Linked DNA regions of Homo sapiens. The protein of the gene in region 2 interacts with the protein of the main gene of each other region in a pairwise test. Each region holds a gene or a part of one and is shown on either strand. Other genes may lie near its edges. The genes, in order: AXIN2 and ZNF124.

Region 1 (3,919 bases), on a different chromosome or scaffold from region 2:
AGGATAATTCCTGCTCTTCCGCCCCAACTATTTATATTAAACCTGACACCAAATCAGTAAGGACACAAACAAGTCGTTAAAAACGAGGCTCCTTTGAGTGCCCGAGGTAAACACAGGGCTTGCAAGCCTGGCCAGTGCCCCAGGCATCCGGCTGCCAAGACCGCTCCTCAGCAGCTGATGAAGAAAGACCATCCTCAGCAGCACTGACGTTTCTGTTCCATTCATTTTACTAACTTATTAAGCCCATCCCAGATGCCAGGTACTCTGCAGAATGAGTGAGTGTGCGGGAGAGGGAAGGGGGGAACTTAAACCTTAGATGGGATCTCTACATTCCAAGAACTAGCTGGAAAAACAGACTTCAGTTCAATAAGAAAGTTGAGGCATGGGGGTCAGGGGGCCACTCTAAAACCTTACAATGGAAAATGGGCTAAGCCAAGAGTCACCCTTTAAAAGTGACATCCCAACCTGGTTGTCCTATTTACATCATCATTACTAATTATACTAATTATAACACTTTGCGGCGGTTCAAAACGTTTCTCTCTACAAAAGGCTTTCATGTTTATTATTTTGGTCCTAATAACAATCCTATGACACAGACAGAAGGAATGGTGCCCACCCATTTTACAGATGGGCACATGCCATTCAGAAAGGCTTCAACACCCAAGCAGTAAGTGGTGGACCGGGCTGGAATGCAAGCCTTTGAATAAGGAGTCAGCAGACCTTTCCATACACTGTGCACACACTCGAATATCTTGCACGTTAAAATGATGTGAGATCATCTGGCTATGTCTTAAATTCTCTTTAAATATGCCCAGTTAAGACATATGAGCTTCAGAGAGTCCTTTAAGATGCTTCATCTCAACCCAACAGTGGGAGAAGGCACACGTGAATCTCGTATGGAAACTCTCAGGTCAATGACAAGCTGTCACCTCTTTATCAGTGATGTCCACGGTTCACAGCCAAGAAGGCAGCCCTGGAAAACAGGAGCTTCTGTCCCTGCCTTCTGGATCTCAAAAGCTTCATGAGTTGCATCCTGGTAATATCCCAGATGAGGCAAGCCCAGGCTGAGTCGCAACTGCCCACCCACAAAGGGGAGGGTTCACAGCAGAGCCCTGCCTGGGGAGGGCGTCCAAAACCACACACTGTGCTATTTACGAAGGTGACACTCTGGTCCCGGCAGTGGGAGACACAGAAGCCCCAGTCAGGAGGCCCCTGGAGAAGCAGCCTTTACCACGGCTCTTAAGTAGTCTCAGCTCTGGCTGCCAGGCTAGAGGGCAAGGAGGCCAGCGCCAGAGGCTTACCCAAATGGTCTCATAATGGGGCGGGCAGGCGTAGCAGGTGCCCGGCGACTGACCTACTGCAGAGGCCAGACCCAGGATCTTCCTCCCAGACAACTTGACTCCACAAGCATAAAGACACTGAAACACCTCCCTGGAACCTGTGTTTCCTTGCAAAAGTCAACCTGGTTCCACTTAGGTGTAGACCAGATGTCTGAGTAAAACTGGTTCCCAAGCCACAAGCGCGCCCCCTGGTGGTTGGAGAACAAGCCCTTCCTCTCCTCGCCAACAGTCAACTCTCTCTGCCGCCCCTAAAATCATGGCCCGCTAGGCTCAGACCTGGCCACCCTGAGAGGCTCAAGATCAACCATCTGGTGCCCACCTCTCTTCCTGCTGCTGGGCACTAGAGACCACATCCTACAGAGAAAGGGAAATCCAGAGGCAGCTATCAGACCGCATCCTGGGCCCCTAACACACAGAGAAATTCACACAGAGAGCAAGATAAATCATTCAGAGAGCAGTCAAGTGCAGCCCCATCCCCTGCCTGTCATAAAACCACACCCCGGAATTAAGAGGCTCATTCTCTTTTCGGATATTTGGAAGTCGGGAGGAGGGGAGAAAACAGAAAAACTCATTCTAACAAGAGGTCTGAAGTTGCCTCCAAAGGTCAAGAATCTTAAGACTTGGCCATTCTGCAAAGAACTATTTGTCTTTGAAGCCTCAAAGAGAAAGTACTCCAGGGCCCCAGTACTCCCGGGCCAAGATCTCTTCTCCATCAGCACTAACAAAATAATCAACTGAAGTCTGACCCTCGGACTCATGAGCATTTAAAACCTGGATTAATATGCCAGCAAGCTCTAAAGGTAAGGGTCCTTCATTTGGGAAAGTCACAGGACCTTCCCTAGTTAGAGGCCTTTCTTGCTGGGTAAATATCTAATTCTACAAAGGGAACCACAAGCTCAGTTAAGCCAATTGCTGGCTCTTATCTTAACAGAAAAGTTCAAAAAAAAATCCCACTTACCCCTCAATGGGTGCACATATTATTTCCTGTGCCTCCACCACAACCCAGCTGCCTCCCTAGCCACATTAATTCCACCCTCTACTGATTAGTGGTGAAGTGACCCCTTCCAAAACCGGCGCTTAGTGGATCTGGTGACTCAGAGGCATCAAAAGCTGCTGTCCTCTCTCTCTCTCTCAACCTCTTCTGAGACACTAGCCCGGGATAATAAGTAACCCACATTAGTGAATACTGCTTGCCACTGTTTGAAGTCAGCACTGGAAGACTGCAGGTATTTACTGTATGTGCATCGCTTTCCCCCTGTTTCAACAACAAAAAGCAAGATCAAAAAGGGTTCATGGCCAGCAGTCCTAACTCAACAGACCTGTCAGTCTCTGCAGCACACCCATCCACCCATCCACCATACTTAAAACATCTGCAAAGTCCACAGCATCAGCCCACCCGCCCCCGTCAAAGTCTTACCTGTATCCACTGTCAACAGTTTCCGTGGACCTCACACTCGCCGTGGCCCTCAGAGTTTTGCTGGACAAGCCAACCACGGTTGGCGAAAGTTTGCACTTGAAGTCGGCACAAGTCCACTCCTCTTCTTCATTCAAGGTGGGGAGATAGCCACACACGACCTTTAGGCTCCCGAGTCCCCCATTACTCATGTAAGCTGTGTTTTCTCCCCCACTCCTCACATATTCGAGGTATATATCAGAAGTCAAAAACATCTGGTAGGCATTTTCCTCCATCACCGACTGGATCTCGGTCTGCGCCTGGTCAAACATGATGGAATCAATCTGCTGCTTCTTGATGCCATCTCTTATGTAGGTCTTGGTGGCAGGCTTCAGCTGCTTGGAGACAATGCTGTTGTTCTCAATGTACCTTTTGTAGATCGCTTTGGCTACTCGTAAAGTTTTGGTATCCTTCAGGTTCATCTGCCTGAATCCATTGCAGGCAAACCAGAAGTCTAAGGTATCCACGCATTTCTCCCTCTCCAGGAAAGTTCGGAACAGGTAAGCACCGTCTTGATCGCCCAATAAGGAGTGTAAGGACTTGGTCCACCGGGTCAGAGGGGAATCCGGAGATGCCCGCCCCTCCGGCTCCCCCAACCCATCTTCGTTCCGCCTGGTGTTGGAAGAGACAGGCATGGGTTTGGTGACCTGGCCCTTGCCCACCCCTGGCTGACACGGTGGGGTCTCCCCTTCTTCCCCTGGCACTGGGGGCCGCGGGGCATCCTCACGGAAGCTGCTGCTGGGGTCCGGGAGGCAAGTCACCAACATAGCGCTACTCATGGTGAGGGAGCTCTTCCCACTGAGTCTGGGAATTTTTCTTCTTCCAGTTCCTCTCAGCAATCGGCGTGGTCTCTCTGTCTCTCTCAAGTCAGCAGGGGCTCATCTGAACCTCCTCTCTGGAAAGAAAAGGAAGGGGGGAGGTGGGGAGAGAGAAAAGGGTATTGATCTAATCAAAACCAGATCTACCCAACATCAAAGCAAGAAAGTAAACAGGCTTTTCAACTCCTCAAATTCAAATCAAGCAACCCAGCTATCTGCGAGGTGCTCATCTAAAGTATCAGGCGCTGCTTTTCAAAAGCGAAATCTGAGCTCCCTGCACACTTTTCGGGGTTGGGGGTGGGAGGGAG
Region 2 (3,919 bases):
AACAAAACAAAACAAAACAAAAAAACCCCAAAAACTTTGGCACTTCCTTTCTCTCTCTCTTGCTCCTTCTCTCCCCATGTGACATGTCAGCTCCCCTTCCCCTTCTGCCATGACTGGAAGCTCTCTGAGGTCCTCATCAGAAGCAGATGCTGGCTTTATGCTTCTGATAAAGCCTGCAGAACCATTAGCCAAATAAAACTCTTCCTTATAAATTACTCAGCCTAGGTATTCCTTTATAGCAATGCAAGCAGACTAAAACAATACTGTTTTCAAGTGAACTATTTTGCAAACATTTAACATCCATGTTACATTGAAGTATATATTTTTGGTAAAAACTTTGAGAATAAATTGATGTTGTCTTAATTTATTTTGTTTGCTTGGTTTTTTTTTTTCCCCGAGATGGTGTTTTGCTCTTGTTTCCCTGGCTGGAGTGCAATGGCACAACCTCAGCTCATTGCAACCTCCGCCTCCCAGGTTCAAGCAATTCTCCTGCCTCAGCCTCCCAAACAGCAGGGATTACAGGCATGCACCATCACACTGGGCTAATTTTGTATTTTTAGTAGAGACGGGTTTTTGCCGTGTTGGTCAGGCTGGTCTCAAACTCCTGACCTCAGGTGATCCGCCCACCTCAGCATCCCAAAGTGCTGGGATTACAGGTGTGAGCCACCATGCCTGGCCTTGTTTGCTTTAAACATATGATTATATACTACAATTGACCCCAAGGGGGACTGCTTCCTCTTGTGAGGGCAAATTACCTTAGATTTCTTGAAGAATTTTTGTACTGATCTTCAATGCTCTGGTCTTCCCCTTTGTTTCCTAAAATGTAGACCCAGAAATATATTACAAATTATTTGAAATTATAGAAAAATTACTAGACTCTAGGTGCTATGTTGGGGATATGGTTTGTACCCACCAAAATGAATGCTGTAATTTGGTCATCAATATGGCAACATTGTTTGTGTTATGGGTACAGATTCCTTATTAATAGATTAATGTCCTTGCTTGGGAATGCATGTTTTCTCTTACTCTTGCAAGACTGAATTAGTTGCCAGAGGGCAGGTTGTTATAAAAGCAAGTTTAGCTCCCAAGAATTGCTCTTATTTTCTTGCTGTGATCCCTTTGCACATGCCCACTTGCTTCTGCTTCATGCCCTGAGCTGAAGTAGCATCAGGTCCTTACCAGATGCAACCTTGGACTTTCTAGCCACTAGAATCATAAACCAATATAAAACTATTTTTGTAAATTACCCAGGATCAGGTATTCTGTTATCACAATTAAAAAATAGACTAAGAAACAAGAGTCATTGCACACTGGGTCCATGCCTCATTCACTCATCAAAGTGTTCCCTTTGTACATTCCAAATCATGGAATGACATTGAAAACCATGAAACACTTACTTTCTGATTGACTAAGTGAAGAAATATTGTGATTCTTACCTATGGAAGCCAGATTCCTGAAGGTTTCCTGCATCACGTCTCTATAGAGATTCTTCTGGGAAGGATCCAACAAAGCCCACTCCTCCTGGGTGAAGTTCACAGCCACATCCTCAAAGGCAACCGAGTTCTAAAATATTCCACATTTTTGTAGAGGATGGATGAGACTGAAAGCACTGGAAATCTGTAGTCAATTTATAAGATGTTCATCTGATTCTGTGGCGAACATTTATTCTACTATTTGGTCACTAGAACTATGACTCTGTCTACACTTCCTTTCTCCCACATAGCAGTTCTTTTTTTTTTTTTTTTTTTTTTTTTGAGACGGAGTCTCACTCTGTTGCCAGGCTGGAGTGCAGTGGCACCGTCTCAGCTCACTGCAATCTTCGCCTCGCAGGCTCAAGTGATTCTCCTGCCTCTGCCTCTCAAGTAGCTGGGACTACAGGCACATGTCACCACGCCCAGCTAATTTTTGTATTTTTAGTAGAGACAGGATTTCACCATGTTGGCCAGGATGGCCTCGATCTCTTGACCTCGTGATCTGCCTGTCTTGGCCTCCCAAAGTGCTGGGATAACAGGCGTGAGCCACCGCGCTCAGCCAGCAGTTCTTATGCTAAAGTTGAACTGTTCAGCAAGGCAGCAGCAGAGAAGGAACACCCTTCTTGTTGGTGGGTCCAGGGAGTAATATTTGCTGTTATGATTTTTCTTTATAGCATATACCTGCAGTACATATCATATCAAAGTCTTACTATCTGGTGTGCATAAGAGAGTTAATATGAGCCGTCACAAGACTACTTACCCTTAGAAATACCTGCTACAAAGTTCAACCTTTGCTGGTATGAGGGAACTTACATTTTAAGAGGCATCCCAACAACCTAAGTGATAAAAGTAGCTCACTGTTGCTAAATAGTTTATCTAAACAATCTGGTATTTGCTGAACCCCTGTTTTCCTTCCAAAAGTCTATTATTTTGTTTTATTGTAGCAGTGGTGCCTAGGGGGATCAGCCTCAATAAACAAACAAAAACACACTCTGAGCACTGAGTATCTGATGAGCTTCCCTGGTAGATAATATTTCATATATGATGTCACAACTTTTTAATTGGGAAATTGAGCCCAATCCACGTGGTTACACAAAGAGAAAATGTGTAGAAGCTTATAAGTGCTTCACTCAAGCCCAAATTTAATCAAGAGGTAATTAACACTAATAATCAATATTCAATAATCCAAAAATAATTATTTTACAATTTCTACTGAAAAATGTCAAAGCAGAATAGAATAAGTGAAAAGGCATGCGTTCAAAGAAAAAAACTCAATGTCATCTAGATGTCACCTCTTACAAATGATATTTATGTAAAATTTCATAGATGCCTGAAACAGACTTTCTAGCAGTTCAGCAGAAACTACTTTTCAAAACCTACAGAAATAACAAACGCCTAACAACCGTCAAAGTCTTCTGAATAACAGTGTGATGGTTTGCCTAATACACATCAATGATTTTCAAATATAATATTCAGGGCAGTGTAGTATAAGCAGAGAGATAAAGAACTAGGCCAAGAGAAAGGCATATAGTCTTTAATTAGCTGGAATTGATATGGAAAGCTGACTAATAACAGAGGAGGCATTGTAGGATAGTGAAGGAAGTATCAAGCACTTTAAACATGGAACAAAGCTAACCGGTATTTAATTGGGAAAAAAATGAATTGCATTGACCTCTATTAGTTGGACAATAATCAATTTGTCATATATTCAAAAGTAAAAAGTATAAATAGACCACTTGCAGAAGTCACAGACAAGGTTTTTTTTGACATATGAATAGGAGAAAAGGAGCAAACAATAGAGACTGACAAATTCAAATATATTAAAATTAGGAGAATTAAAAGACAAAAAACAGTAAAATAAAAATCTGCAATACATGCAATATAAAAGAAATTAGTGTGCACAGTAAAAATGAATGAAAACATGATTAAAAAATGGGAAAAAAAAGCAAAAGATACATAACAAGAAAAAAGACCATTTATGGAAAGAGATCCATTTTCTTGGTAATAAAACAGCCAAATAATATGGCATATTACTATAATAATAATAGTAAATAATAGTCCACATTCTTTAGAAGAACAAAAATTAGAGAATCTCAAGTGGTGATTACCACACCAAATAAATACGCAGAAATGAAGGCCAAGGCAGTGGATATACTCCATTGCTATTTCCAGTAATTTGAACTTTACCACAATCTACAGTCCAGTAATTTTTCTCTAATGTCCAGAAAATTTATTGTGCATTATCAGAGTTTATATTCAGCATTCTTAAGGAAAAGAAATTCCAACCATGAATTTCCCATCCAGCCAAAAGAAGCTTCATAATCATTTTCAGACAAGCAACTACTAAGAGAATTTGTTCCCACTAGATCTGCCTTATAAGAGTTCCTAAAGGTAGTGCTAAATATGGAAAGATCATTAACAGCCACCACAAAAACACACGTAAGTAC

What was found.
Region 1: the proteins of ZNF124 (region 2) and AXIN2 interact in binary tests that used the Homo sapiens proteins (3 or more experiments, as listed by UniProt).

Annotation. Positions count from the first base shown.
Region 1 is NC_000017.11:65,555,049-65,558,967, forward strand, and holds part of AXIN2 (axin-2), read right to left. Parts: intron 3,689-3,919; 5' UTR 3,573-3,688; coding exon 2,758-3,572; intron 1-2,757. UniProt on the Homo sapiens protein: Inhibitor of the Wnt signaling pathway. Down-regulates beta-catenin. Probably facilitate the phosphorylation of beta-catenin and APC by GSK3B.
Region 2 is NC_000001.11:247,158,251-247,162,169, forward strand, and holds part of ZNF124 (zinc finger protein 124), read right to left. Parts: intron 1,564-3,919; coding exon 1,437-1,563; intron 817-1,436; coding exon 756-816; intron 1-755. UniProt on the Homo sapiens protein: May be involved in transcriptional regulation.